Homo sapiens: one gene and its partner. The protein of the gene in region 2 purifies or fractionates together with the protein of the main gene of each other region. This does not show direct contact. Each region holds a gene or a part of one and is shown on either strand. Other genes may lie near its edges.

Region 1 (3,820 bases), on a different chromosome or scaffold from region 2:
TACCATCAGGTGAGAAAGACAGACACTCACCAAAGATTCACACTTACAAAAGTACAATAACAAAGTCAGGTCTGCTCTAGGAAGGAGAGGAGCATCCTGCCACAAGAATATTCAATAGAGAAACTGACTCAGAAGATGGAGTCAGGGAAAGCTTCCTGGAGGAGGTGATATTATGCTGAATGCCAAAGGAAGAGTGGGAGGTGAATGGAAAGTCTTTCAGGGAGAGGCAATGGCTTGGGCAAAGGTCCTGGGATAACAGGAAATAAAAGACGACAGGGAGATTGAAGGGCAGAGAGCAAATGTCGGTGAGGGTTAGGGCTCTGTGGTAGACAGAGGCCAGATCTGGCAGGGCCTCGAGGGCCCTCTGAAGGATTTTGGTCATTACTTGAAGAACAATAAGAATCCACTGAGGGCTGGGTGCTGTGGCTCACACCTGTAATCCCAGCACTTTGGGAGGCCGAGGTGGGCAGATCACGAGGTCAGGAGATCGAGACCACAGTGAAACCCTGTCTCTACTAAAAATACAAAAAATTAGCCGGGCGCAGTGGCAGGCGCCTGTAATCCCAGCTACTTGGGAGGCTGAGGCAGGAGAATGGCGTGAACCCGGGAGGCGGAGCTTGCAGTGAGCCGAGATCGCACCACTGCACTCCAGCCTGGGTGACAGAGCGAGACTCCGTCTCAAAAAAAAAAAAAAACAGTAAAAAGGAATCCATTGAAGAGATATAAGCAGAGGCAGGGGCTTAACATAATTGGACCTGTGTTTCCAAGAGACCACCCCGGCCACAGTATAGGTTATTATGGTTATGATTATTACCGGCTGAAACCCATTTGGGGAGCCAAGACAAGTACCCAAACAACACAGAGTCCCCAGTGTGAGGCTCCGTGCCCTGAACAGCCTTCCCTCATTGAACAGAAGTTCAATAGCCCGGCGTTGAAGAGCATGGGCCATACCTAGACTCTGGCTTGAATCCAGTTTTATTCCTTTCTAGCAACGTGACTTGGGGCAAGTTACTTCACCTCTCCGTGCCCCATTACTCCAAATATGTAAAATGGAGATGGTGCTAATAATAGCCACTACGTCATAAAGATGTTGCCCAGATTAGGTGGATTAATATTTGTTCAGCACTATGCAAGTGATGACTAAATAAAGCGTCAGTCACGATGCAGGTAGCCAGCACATTACAGAGGGTGAGGCCCTGACGCATTACGATCAGTTCTAATGGCAATGTACAACATTAGGATTTTTCAGTAGATATGAGACTGAATGCTGCTCCAGAATGCTAGAGTTTTGTCCTGGTTCAAAGAAACTTTAGAAGTTTTAATATGTTCTTTATTGTATTCTTTACTGCATCTCCATCCCCTGACACATTTCAGGGATGGCCCAGAGTGACAGATTCGTGTGTGCTGAGTCCTGCTGTTCAGGACGTTGCTCACTTATGGGGCTGCCCAACCCTCCTCCACCCCATGGCCTTGGGCGAATCATTTTACTTCCCTTTAGAGTTAAAGATGTGGTTTCCGGCCAGGCCTGGTGGCTCACGCCTGTAATCCCAGCACTTTGGGAGGCTGAGGCGGGCGGATCACGAGGTCAGGAGATCGAAACCATCCTGGCTAACACGGTGAAACCCTGTCTCTACTAAAAATACACAAAAATTAGCCGGGCATGGTGGCGGGTGCCTGTAGTCCCAGCTACTTGGGAGGCTGAGGCAGGAGAATGGCGTGGACCCGGGAGGCGGAGCTTGCAGTGAGCCGAGATCACGCCACTGCACTCCAGCCTGGGCGACAGAGCCAGACTCCGTCTCAAAAAAAAAAAAAAAGATGTGGTTTCCAAGGGAGGTTTCAAACTGTGTTCTGCCAATGTCCCTGGAAGGGAATTGGGCCTGGGGTGAGGGGCAGAGTGAGGGGACAGGAGTCCAGCAGCCCTACCCACCCCGTAACACACATTTCACCCAGAACAGTGGAGCTCTCAGCAGCTTTGCACATTAAACTGGCACGTAAGACTTTACATGAACACAAGTTTCTGATGCCAAAAAATATTTGAAAAGCAGCTCGTCTCACTTCCCCTACAGCCTACGACCTTTGGCCTATATGTCAATTCCAGACACATTCACGATTTACGGGCAGATTGTAACTGGCTTTGCCAGCTCTCTCATTCTCAGAGCGGGGTAAAAGGAAAGAATGTGGGCTCCCTGCATTCAGAGCTGATGCCCACATTCCTAGCTCAGCCTTCAGAGGCTCTGTAAGATGAGGTTGAGGCCGGGCATGATAGCTCATGCCTGTCATCCCAGCACTTTTGAAGGCCAAGGCCAGAGGATCACTTGAGGCCAGAAGTTGGAGACCAGCCTGGCCAACATAGTGAAACCCCGTCTCTACTAAAAATACAAAAAATAGCCAGGCATTGTGGCATGTGCCTGTAACCCCAGCTACTTGGGAGGCTGAGGCAGAAGAATAGCTTGAACCTGAGAGGCGGAGATTGCAGTGGGCCAAGATCGTGCCACTGCACTCCAGCCTGGGCGGCAGAGCAAGACTCCATCCCCCAAAAAATAAAAAATTAAAAAATGAGTTTGATAGGACCTGCCCCCACCCTGCCCCAGAGATGAGGAGGTCCCATGCTCGGTCAGGACAAGGCAGGGGCCTGGCTGCCCCACAAGCCTTCTGCCCACAGCCTGCGTGGTTCTCCAGAGAGAGGGCAGGGTGGCTGCTAAACCTCAAAGGCACCCCCAGGAAGTTTCAGGGCGAGTGGCTGATTTTTATAGATCAACTGTGCTCCAAGAGAGACAAGCTGCCGTTTGATTTTATCACCTGGTCACTGTATTTTCAGATTTTTTTTTTTGCTCCATTTTCCACTTCTTGGTTATTTCCTGCAGATAAAGATAAGTCCCCAAGCAAAGTCAGATGAAGACTCTTGTCCTTTTTTAATAGGGTGTCCAAGACTACACACCCAAACAATACACACACACCAACACCCCACACACGTACACACACATCCCTCTTCTACTCCACGTGTTCATGCACACACAAACACGCCCCCCACACACTCACACCTACCACACACATCCAGAAACACACACTCACAGAAACAAACACACCCACCACACACTCACACCTACCAAACACACACCCAGAAACACACACTCACAGAAACAAACACACCCACTCTCACACCAACCAAAGCCAAAAGGCTAACAGCCTTGAGCCTTGGAAAATGAAACTTGTTCCTCCACTTCGACTTTTTCCAACAGGCAGCCTCTCCCCTCTGCCCACAGAGGAGGCCAGTGGAGCTGCCAAGTCAGCTCAAAGGTGAGCCTGGTAAAAAGCCCTCCTCTCCTGCTCAATGAATCTGTGCCCCATGCAGACATGGTGCCAGGGCTGTGTGGAGGAGCAAACATTTCTCTAATCTCTCCAGGGATTTTTAATCTAAGGGGAGAGATAAAGCATGTGCACGATACTTCACAAAGTTTCCAAGGGAAAATGCATTGCAGGAGATAAGCACAGTCTTGCCAGGGCTCTGAAAGCTGAGAGGAGGCACAGAACCTCCTGGCTGGGGGAAGCGTGCTGTGTGTGGTTCTGGCTGGGCTGCTAAGGAACAGGTAAGAATGTGACAAGTAGAGATGGCACAGGGACAGCAGCCGTGGGTGGTGGGTAGGGGGCAGTCCAGGCAAAAGGAAGGACTGCAGAAATGAAAGAATTAGGGTGTCTAGGAAAAGCTAAGCAGGCACATTTGCCTGGGGGTTGGAGTCTTCAGTGCCGGCTGTGCAGGACTTTGAACACCAGGTGAGGAGTCTGACACTAGGAGAGGAGGGAGGAGTCTTCAGTGGTGTTA
Region 2 (3,820 bases):
TGGCCAGGCTGGTCTTGAACTCCTGACCTCAGGTGATCCACCACCTCAGTCTGTATGTTCTTCTCTGGATAGTATGAGGAAGTCATAAGCCAGGTAGGGTACAAACCTAATCCCCTCCAGCTGCCTCAGCTGATTAACCTACTTGCATTTCTGCACCTCTTGCTATAAGCAGATTGTTCTTCTCAGTCCATTAGCATAGACTTCCAGGAGTTCTGATGATATACCTACCGGGAGCCAGCGACCAATGTCTCCTGTGTGAAGCCAGCCATCACTGTCCAGGGCTTCCTGTGTCTTCTCAGGGTCCTTCAGGTATCCTTTGAACACGTTTGTACCCTTGATGCAGACCTGCACAGCAGACATACAAGGCGGTGACAATAGCAAAGGCTGCTCCTCCCAGCGTGGGCAGTTTATGAAACACCTGCTCCCCTTAAATCATTTGATGGCTTCCACTACACTGTGAAGAGCACCAGATCTAAGTCTCCACTATAGGGGATAGGAAAGTGAAGTTCAGAATGCTTAATTCTTTGCTAACAATCTCAAAGGGGCCAAATCCAAGTTTGCTTACAATTATTTGCTCTTTCTGATATAAACCTCCCCACCATGACTGTCTGACCACAGGGCATGACCTACCCACCTCTCCTTCATTATTCACTGTAAAGTAGTTCATGTCAGCCACATCTTCCAGCTTCACGTAATTGCAAGCCAGGGGCACCCCAACGTGACCTAGAACATACCGTGCTGAATTAGCTGAGAAACTCTTGCATGGTGATAATTCCAGGCACATTTCTAAGATATTTATGAATTGACTCTAGAAGAGGAAGACTGAAAAATCACCTGGCACCAATGCAGACTAGCCAAGATAGGCAGGCCTGGACCCAAAACTTGAATTTTGCATTTGCCACATTAGTCCAGAGAACTGAAGTTATCTAAACTCCAAAGTCCTAGTTCAGTTAGAACCTTTCTCCCAACCATGGCACCTCCTGCCCAGCAGATGGAGGACTTACCTGATGTCCAGTCCCCAGGTAATGTAAATGTACAGCCACCTGTGCATTCTGTTTGACCATAAGCTTCATACACCTGGGAAACCAAAGAAGAGCTTTTAGACTTACTCAAGATAAAGTGTGAGCTGGCCACGTGCTATGGTCAAGACACGAGGAAAGCAAGGTCTCTAAGGGTTCGAGACCACTTAGTGTCTTAAAACCTTGAACTTGGAGGGGGCGGTGGCTCATGCCTGTAATCCCAGCACTTTGGGAGGCCGAGGCGGGAGGATCACCTGAGATCAGGAGTTTGAGACCAGCCTGGCCAACATGGTGAAACCCCATCTCTACAAAAACACAAAAAAAATTAGCTGGGCATGATGGCAGGTGTCTGTAATCCCAGCTACTTGAGAGGCTGAGGTGGGAGAATCTCTTGAACCTGGGAGGCAGAGGTTGCAGTGAGCTGAAATCACGCCATTGTACTCCAGCCTGGGTGACAGAGCGAGACTCCGTCTCAAAAAACAAACAAACAAACAAACGAACAAACAAAAAACCTTGAACTCATACCCAAGCTGCAAAGTATTTACTACCAAGCCTTCTGGCCATTCAGAAACCAAAAGGGTCTGGAAATAGACCAAAGCATAGAACTTTATATGAAAATGCAGCATTTTGGCCAGGCATGGTGGCTCATGCTTGTAATCCCAGCACTTTGGGAAGCCAAGGCGGGAGGATCACCTGAGGTCATGAGTTCGAGACCAGCCTGACCAACATGGTGAAACCCCATCTCTACTAAAAATACAAAAATTAGCCGGGCCTGGTGGCACATGCCTGTAATTCCAGCCACTCAGGAGGCTAAGGCAGGAGAATTGCTTGAACCCAGGAGGCGGAGGTTGCAGTAAGCCGAGATTGTGCCATTGCACTCCAGCCTGGGTGACACAGTGAGCGAGACTACATCTCAAAAGAAAAAAAAAAGAAAAAAAAGAAAAGAAAATGCAGCATTTCAAGTAGGTGGGAACATGTAAGTTATTCACTAAGTGGTGTGCAACCCAATAGCAATTGAACTTGACCCTGAGCAATGGAGCATCACTGAAGGAACTGAAGAAGGGGAGTAGTATTTTTTAAGGGAAATAGCCCCCACTATGATATAAAACAAGGGTGGGCAAACTTTATCTGTACAGGCCAAGATAGTAAATATTTTCCACTTTGTGAGCCATCTGGTATCTGACTCAAAACTTGACTCTGCCAAAATAGCACAAAAGCAGCCACAGTCCATATATAAATGGATGGACATAGCTGTATTTGAATAATATTTTTAAAATAAAAACCAGCTGCAGACTAGTTTTAGCCAGTGCTACAATTTGCCAATCCTTGGTATAGAAGATAATCTTGACTGGAGAGAGGCTGGGGGCAGGAAACAAGTTCAAGGGCTGCTGCAATGGGGGGTGTGGCCTGTGATAGGCAGAGTTGGGAGAGAGAGGAAGGCTTAGAGAAGACATTTCGGGAAGGAGTTAGCAACAGGACCTGCTGATCTATTGGTTTTAGGGGCTTAAGGAAAGGACAGTATTAAAAATGGCTAAGAGGATGCTAATTTGAAGGACCTCAGGCCTTGGCATCATTCTGGAGTCTCTTTTGATTGTGGTTATACAGATAGGGGACTCATGAGGAAAAGTCTATGCCTGTTTTGTTCATGCTCTGCATGGTTGGTTGAATGAATGAACTAATTATCCATCTGGGTGAAAATTGAGACAATATGCATGGCCAAGCACTTGGACAAATTTCAGGTGGAACTGAGACTTAAAAGGAAAAAATGGAAAATGGTAAGTTTGCCAGAAAATAAGGGTGAAACAGTCTTATGAAATATTGGGGGTTAGGAAGTCCTGTCTAAGCAGTTTAAAACCTACAAATAGAAAAGATTATTTAGTTTGACTATAAAAACATTGGAAATTTTTATATGGCAATACACAGGGCAAAAATGATGAGACCAGGAAAAATGTTTCCAACATGACAAAAGTTAATATTACAGGTTGACTATTCTAATCCAAATGTTTGAAATCCAAAATGTTCCAAAATCCAAAACTTTTTGAGTGCCAACATGATGTTCCAAGGAAATGCTTTTTGGAGCATTTCAGATTTTGGATTTTCAGATTCAGAATGCTCAACTGTTTTATAATGCAAACATTACAAAATTGGAAAAAAATGCAAAATTCAAAACACTTTTAGTCCCAAGCATTTCAAATAGGGAGATACTCAACCTGTATTACTCTGTGAAGAACTCTTAGAAATATAAAAAAGGACCAAATTATCTTTTGCCTGTTTTTCTATAAGGAAGTAATAGAATAATTCATGGATAAAATATACATGTCAATAAGCAATAGAAAGATGTTTGGTGTAAATAAAAGAAACAAAACTGTAATAAGATTTTTCATTTATCTGATTAGCTAATATCTGAATGACTGATAAAGTCTGTCACTGGCAAGAGCATGGGCAAATAAGGCCTTGTATACTTGCAGAAATGTGCAAAAAAGATCTTTCTGGAAGAAAGTTTGATAATATACATTATTACACACACACACACACACACACACACACAGATACATTGTGTGTATTACTTTGACCCAATAATCCCTTCTTGCGTGGATTTATTCTAGATTATTAATTGATTATAACAATGAAAAATATCATAAGCAACTCAAGTGTCCATTAATAGGAGATTAGTTATTTGGGTACGGTTGACCCTTGCACAACACAAGTTTGTATGGCACAGCTCCACTGATAGGTGGATTTTCTTCTGTCTGTGCTGCCCCTGAGATAGCAAAACCAACCCCTCCTCTTCTTCCTCCTCA

What was found.
Region 1: the proteins of ACSL5 (region 2) and TMEM238L purify together in Homo sapiens (co-immunoprecipitation; one study listed by IntAct). This does not show direct contact.

What each region holds. Positions count from the first base shown.
Region 1 is NC_000017.11:10,797,929-10,801,748, reverse strand, and holds part of TMEM238L (transmembrane protein 238-like), read left to right. Parts: intron 1-3,820.
Region 2 is NC_000010.11:112,418,850-112,422,669, reverse strand, and holds part of ACSL5 (long-chain-fatty-acid--CoA ligase 5), read right to left. Parts: intron 1,078-3,820; coding exon 1,005-1,077; intron 724-1,004; coding exon 635-723; intron 346-634; coding exon 229-345; intron 1-228. UniProt on the Homo sapiens protein: Catalyzes the conversion of long-chain fatty acids to their active form acyl-CoAs for both synthesis of cellular lipids, and degradation via beta-oxidation.